2 linked regions of the Homo sapiens genome follow. The protein of the gene in region 1 purifies or fractionates together with the protein of each later gene. This does not show direct contact. Each region holds a gene or a part of one and is shown in the gene's direction. Other genes may lie near its edges. The genes, in order: RARG and ZNF423.

What was found.
Region 2: the proteins of RARG (region 1) and ZNF423 purify together in Homo sapiens (co-immunoprecipitation; one study listed by IntAct). This does not show direct contact.

The regions. Positions count from the first base shown.
Region 1 is NC_000012.12:53,212,513-53,215,401, reverse strand, and holds part of RARG (retinoic acid receptor gamma), read left to right. Parts: coding exon 1-109; intron 110-795; coding exon 796-956; intron 957-1,166; coding exon 1,167-1,343; intron 1,344-1,701; coding exon 1,702-1,906; intron 1,907-2,158; coding exon 2,159-2,317; intron 2,318-2,889.
Region 2 is NC_000016.10:49,846,082-49,849,900, reverse strand, and holds part of ZNF423 (zinc finger protein 423), read left to right. Parts: intron 1-3,819. UniProt on the Homo sapiens protein: Transcription factor that can both act as an activator or a repressor depending on the context. Plays a central role in BMP signaling and olfactory neurogenesis. Associates with SMADs in response to BMP2 leading to activate transcription of BMP target genes.

The DNA.
Region 1 (2,889 bases):
GTGTACACGTGTCACCGCGACAAAAACTGTATCATCAACAAGGTGACCAGGAATCGCTGCCAGTACTGCCGGCTACAGAAGTGCTTCGAAGTGGGCATGTCCAAGGAAGGTAGGCTGCCATCCTTGGCTTGGGCAGGAGCACTTCGGTCCTACCCTATGGCTGTGGCCCTCTTTCCTCTGGCCACTCCCACTTCCCTGACCTCTGAGACTTGGCCTGCCCTGGGGTGCTGCCTTCTCCCAGGCCAGTCTTATTTGATTAGCTCCATTCAACCAGGAGGCCCCACCATTTCCCATTCTCCCTCTCAGGGAGCTTGACTCTTCCTCTGAATGGGTGAATAAGTAGGGTCTCACATTCCCCCTGTTTCATGGGGGAAATGAAGCCAGTGGGCTTGCCAGTCCCTTTCCCTCCCCTGGACTGAGCCAGAGATGGATATGGGGTGGCTCCTCCTCTCCACCCCCCCCTCGCCCCCATTGTGCTGCCAAGGCTATAAGTGGATATCCTGCCGCCTGCATATCCTGCCCCCCCTCCCCCAGCTCCTGCAGGGTGACAGGAAGGACAGGATGGAGCCGAATGGCCTGGGGAAGGAGCAGGGGCTGCAGGCCCTGGGTGGGGCTGGGGAGAACCAGCCTGGGAATAGGAGCTATTATAGGTGATAGGGAAACTGAGGCAGTAATTACAGTGCCAGAGAATAGATATTCATGATAAGGACTGAGCATATTAAATTAGGGTGAGAGAGGACACCCAAAGGGAGGCTCTGAGGGTCCTGACCCTCTCCTTGCGCCTCCACCCACAAGCTGTGCGAAATGACCGGAACAAGAAGAAGAAAGAGGTGAAGGAAGAAGGGTCACCTGACAGCTATGAGCTGAGCCCTCAGTTAGAAGAGCTCATCACCAAGGTCAGCAAAGCCCATCAGGAGACTTTCCCCTCGCTCTGCCAGCTGGGCAAGTATACCACGGTGAGGAATGGGCAGAGCCCAGTGAGGGCAGGGCACTCTTCACTTTGGGGAATGGGGCTGGGTTGTGTTGGAGGCTATCATCGACTGGTGCTGAGGACAAGGAGGGCATCAGAATGCAGAGGAGAGAGCTTGGGATATTGGTAGAGAGAAGACAGCCCCCAGAGGTGGGCCTTAGCTTGCCTTCCAACCTTCTACCCCTCCCCTCTGCAGAACTCCAGTGCAGACCACCGCGTGCAGCTGGATCTGGGGCTGTGGGACAAGTTCAGTGAGCTGGCTACCAAGTGCATCATCAAGATCGTGGAGTTTGCCAAGCGGTTGCCTGGCTTTACAGGGCTCAGCATTGCTGACCAGATCACTCTGCTCAAAGCTGCCTGCCTAGATATCCTGGTAAGTTAGGCCCTGTGGGTCCTGCCACAGCCCGACCCACATATGGGACCCTCAACAATTCCTTGATCCATGCAAAGATTTCCTTACCCTGCACCCCCTGCCACACATGTGGGACTCCTCAGCTCTCTTTTCGTCTTAGCCTCTGCCCCTATGACCTGATCCTAGACTTTTGGATGCCCTGTCTCCTCCTGACTTCCCGGGACTACCCCTGCCAAGCCTCAGATCCTCCACCTCTGCCTTCTCCATGCCTGCTTCAGGTTGCACTCACTGGGGACCTAACCTCCTCACTTTCCACTCATTCCCTCTTTTCCCCATCCCCCAGAAACAGCACTAACCCTCCTCCACCCCCCACCTCCAGATGCTGCGTATCTGCACAAGGTACACCCCAGAGCAGGACACCATGACCTTCTCCGACGGGCTGACCCTGAACCGGACCCAGATGCACAATGCCGGCTTCGGGCCCCTCACAGACCTTGTCTTTGCCTTTGCTGGGCAGCTCCTGCCCCTGGAGATGGATGACACCGAGACAGGGCTGCTCAGCGCCATCTGCCTCATCTGCGGAGGTGCGGGGGCGCCCCCTGGCGTCTGCTCAGTGCTCAGTCTCCTTTCCCACCACTCCATGCGGAATCTGTCTGGGAGGGGGCGTGGAGGACCCAGTGGTCTCTTCTGCTGGTAATTCTTGCACCTGGCCCCATCCAGAGAGTTCTGAAACCCTGTACAGGCTTCCCAAAACGCCGGTTGGTGATCAGCCATCTGTCACTGTGTCTTCCCCATCTCTTCCTTCCCCTCTCACTCCAGTATACTTGTCCCCATAGACCGCATGGACCTGGAGGAGCCCGAAAAAGTGGACAAGCTGCAGGAGCCACTGCTGGAAGCCCTGAGGCTGTACGCCCGGCGCCGGCGGCCCAGCCAGCCCTACATGTTCCCAAGGATGCTAATGAAAATCACCGACCTCCGGGGCATCAGCACTAAGGGTGAGTCATGAGTGGGTGTCCCCTCTCTGTCTTCCCAGGGCTGTTGGTCTCCCAGGTCGGACAGGAGGACACACAGAGACAAGAACAGAGTAGTTGAGAACCAGGCAATCTACACTGGAATCCTAGCTCTGCCACATAGTAGTGGGAGACTTTGGGCAAATTGCTTCTAAACCAGTACTGTCCAGTAGAACTTTCTGCAATGATGGGAATACAATAGTCATTAGCCACATGTGGCTATTAAGCATCTGAAATGTGACTACTGCAACTGCAGAATTGAATTTTTAATTCAGCACAATTCCAAGTATGTGTGTGTGTGTGTGTGTGTGTGTGTGTGTGTGTGTGTGTGTATATATATATTTAGAGACAAAGTCTTGGGCAAATTGCTTTACTTTTTTAATCTTGTTTGTAAACTGGGCTATTCTTCACGTACCTTGTAACGCTGTCTTGAGGACTAAATTAGTTAATATACAATGTAAAGCCAGGCACCATGGTGCACATCTGTAGTTCCAGCTACTCAGGAGGCTGAGGCAGAAAGATCAGTTGAGGCCAGAAGTTGGAAGCTGCAGTGAGCT
Region 2 (3,819 bases), on another chromosome or scaffold:
CGGCCTCCCAGCGTTATAGATTGGTGCTGTGAAAACACTGACATTTTCTTTGTTACGTTGCTGTTGTTCTACTTGCAAAGTCAATTACACAATGTCGGAGCTCAGTTACCAAGTTGACTTTGGAGGTAACAATGTCTTTCATTCTCTTTTTAAAGATATAATTTCCCTTTGTTGTTGTGGTTGTTGTTTCGTTTTCTTTCTTTTTTAACCTGCCTCCCTCTGTTTACCTCCCCTCCCTCTTGCCTCACCCCCCTCAAGAGTCTGAACATCCTAGCTAGGCAAACACACTCTGGTTTCAATTGTGACAAGTCAAATTCAAAGGCAACCACATCATTATCTCCGAATTCTTCAACTCATTCACATTTCAGTGGCTTCTTATTGATATAGTGACTAAAGCAGCCAAGATACATAAAAACCCATCAAATGAGATTGCAGTGTTGATAATCTCTTATCAAGTGGGTTGTTCTCTGGATTTGGGGTCATTGAGGTTGGCAAATTCAGAGTTTTCTTTCTTTCTTTTTTTTGTGGAGACTACAACCTGGGCTGAACCAGGTTCTGGGTCGATGGGACCCTGGCAAACAGTTTTTTCTTACAGAAGATTTATAGGCATTTGTATCTCAGAGGCTGGAGCCATTGAGTTCTGGATTTGGGATCCTGAATGACGTCATGTAGAAGGGTAGAAGGGGTCTCATAAGAAAATCATGTCATCTGTCCTTCTCCCTTTGCAGATGGCAAACTCCAATCATAAGGCGATCCTATCAGGTGATCCCAGTGTGCCCACTAAGGACTCAGGAGTGATTTGCATTCCCGTCTAAGTGTGCAAAATCTTGCTACTGAACAGGAGGAGAAAACCTTGAAAAATATTCAAAGCTGAATATGGTTCAGGTGGATATTTTTTAGATGCCTGCCCCCTATCTTCTGTCCCTCCCTGCCTTCCCCAGAAAGAGGAAACCCTAATTCCTTAGTTCTCTAAACCTGGTCATCCAAGAAGCAGTGACCTTCGAGCTGCGGGTTGTTGGAGCATCCTCCTGCCTGATACACTGCGGTGCGAGGTGCTGCCCTGCTGCCAACTGCCTCCAGATGACAGGGATCCATCAGGAAACTCCGTCCGAGACACTAATTGTGGGCCCCCGAAGTTATTATTATGAACCACCAGACAAGAGCCTGTATTCGCCAGCAATTTGTCAGGACTAATTTTGTTTTTCTCCAATAATTGAAAATTAATGTCTTGAAGTGAAAGCAGATGTTCATGTCATCTTCTGAATTGGGATATAAAATGGGGCTCTGTGGATGTGCTAATTTAACAGCAATTTCCCTCTCCCAGATAATGGGGGTGCTGGGGCTGATGTCACCTTTGGAGCAGGGACCAGGGGCCGGGAGAGAGACAGAGGCCTGGGTTATGCTTGTGCTTCTCGAGGGTTTGTTTTGGAGGGAGAACCCATACAGAAAAAGATTTGCTTGTGCTATGAAAGTTGGAGAACTCACTGTTTTGAATATTCATTTGCAGAAGAAGTATTTTTTGAGGTAATTCAAGCATTATGCTGGGGAGCCTTTGTTTGGGGAAAGGGTGGCTTCATACAGATGAGTGGATCCCCAGCTGTCATGCCTATCACCGTCACCTACAATAAAGCTGGTTAAATTGCATATTCCTGGGCCCAGGTCCTGCAGATGCTCACCTGGCTGGTCTGAGGAGGGGCTTAGATCTCTTCATCCCCCAACTCCTGCTTTTAAGCAATTTTGATAAAATATACGTAACTTAAAATTTACCATCTTAACCATTTTTTTTTCCTTTTTTTACAGACAGGATCTTGCTCTGTCCCCCAGGCTGGAGTGCAGTGACGTGATCGTAGTTCACTGCAGCCTTGAACTCCTGGGCTCAAGCAGTCCTCTCACCTCAGTCTCCCGAGTAGCTAGAACTACAGGCTAATTTCTTAATTTTATTATTTGTAGAGATGGGTCTATGCTGCCCAGGCTGGTCTTGAATGCCAGGCTTCAGGGAATCCTCCTGCCTCGACCTCCCAAAATGCTGGGATTACAGGCATGAGGCACCTTGCATGGCCCATCTTAACCATTTTTCAGAGGCATTAAGTACATACACATTGTTGTCGGGCTGTCACCACCATGAATTTTTCATTTATAGTTGGCACCCAAATGATGGTGGATTAGGGATCTGCAGCCCACTACCCCAGAGGAGGTCATCCAGGCCAGCCTCCCATTTCCAGGGTAAGAATGAGAAACAGAGGCTTAGAAGATGAGGCCATTCTCTCGGCGGGGGGCGGGGGGGTATGTTCTTTGCCTTGTTCTAGTGTAAGAGGTGAGATTGGATTGTCCAAGGCTAGGGCAGGGCATAAGACTAGGGTTCCATCAGGGCTGGGGGAAAGGGCAGGTGGGGTGCTAATAAGGACTTGCTGAGTGATCTGATGACCATTATTAGGATTAGAATATTTGTTTTGTCTCCTTGTGGGGACAGCATTCTTTTGAGACTGTGCCTGGTGGGTTGCGAGCTTGCCCAGTGGCCCTGGCAGATCCCTTGTGGCCCCTATGCCTGCCTGCCAGGACTCAGCTCCCTCGGCCTACCCAGTCCTGCACACTTAGGCCAGTTTGTCTATGACAAGGAGAGAGAAGAATGGCTGTTTTGTCCACTTGATTGCCTTGCTTTCTAGACCATCTTGGGCCCAAAGGTCTAGGCTTTGCAAACTCTTCACTGCCTCGCTCCTTGGAGGTGCTTGGAAACTTTTTCTCCCCCTGTTTTCTCTGTAATTGAAATTTGCCCTTTCGTTACCTGGGCATGAATTATTTTTTGCAGTGTTGTCATTCCCTATCCTGCTGTGAGGTTTATCTCTTCTGTTGATCCTAATTAAATAAAACATACTGTTCACCTAACTCCTGTTGCACTGAATTTTACCTGCCTGAAGGCAGAGTGATGACCATCTGGGCTTAGTTAGGGAGGTGGGCATGGCTGGAGAGGGCAGCTGGGTTGGTATGACTACACATTCAGGCTGGAAGACTGGGCAGGGGGACCTCCTTGGCCTGGAGGCTGCAGAACCTTGGAGCCACCAGCAACATAGAGTATATTTTTGGTTCCTGAACAAGAGATATGGCTTTGTCCCTCACCCCCTGTGGCTGCAGTTTTGAACTTGGAGAGAGGAGAGACAATCATCAGCTCCTGAGGGTCCCCAGGGAGAGGGAGAGGGAGGAGAAGCAGGTGCCCTGAAGTGGGGAGATGGAAAGAGGAGGCAGGCTTCTGTCTCTGGGGTGGAGGCCACAGAGAGTGCTGGGGTCTCTGGGGAGCAGCAAGCAGTGCACGGGTTCTCAGTGCCCAGGACAGCCCCTGCAGATGCCTTGTGCCCCTTAGGGAGACGCTGGCCAGCCAGGGGCCAGACACACATTTTGGGAAGATTCACTGTTTTTGCCTTTGAGCCTCTCCTAATCCTGAAAAACACAGGTTGAAAAGGAACCTTGGAGCTCACTTCATTTACACTTCTTTGGGTGTGTTTCTGGCAACCTTGGTTTCATCCAGCCTGGACGTACACACTTTCACTCGCAGGGCGCTCACTACCTCTGTGGCATATCTATGCCTTTTTTTTTTTTTTTTTTTTTTGAGACAGAGTCTTGCTCTGTCAGCCAGGCTGGAGTGCAGTGGCACGATCTTGGCTCATTGCAGCCCCCACCTCCCAGGCTCAAGCAATTCCTGCCTCAGCCTCCCGAGTAGCTGGGATTACAGGCATGTGCCACCAGGCCTGGCTAATTTTTGTGTTTTTATTAGAGATGGAGTTTCACCATGTTGGCCAGGCTGGTCTCGAACTCCTAACCTCAGGT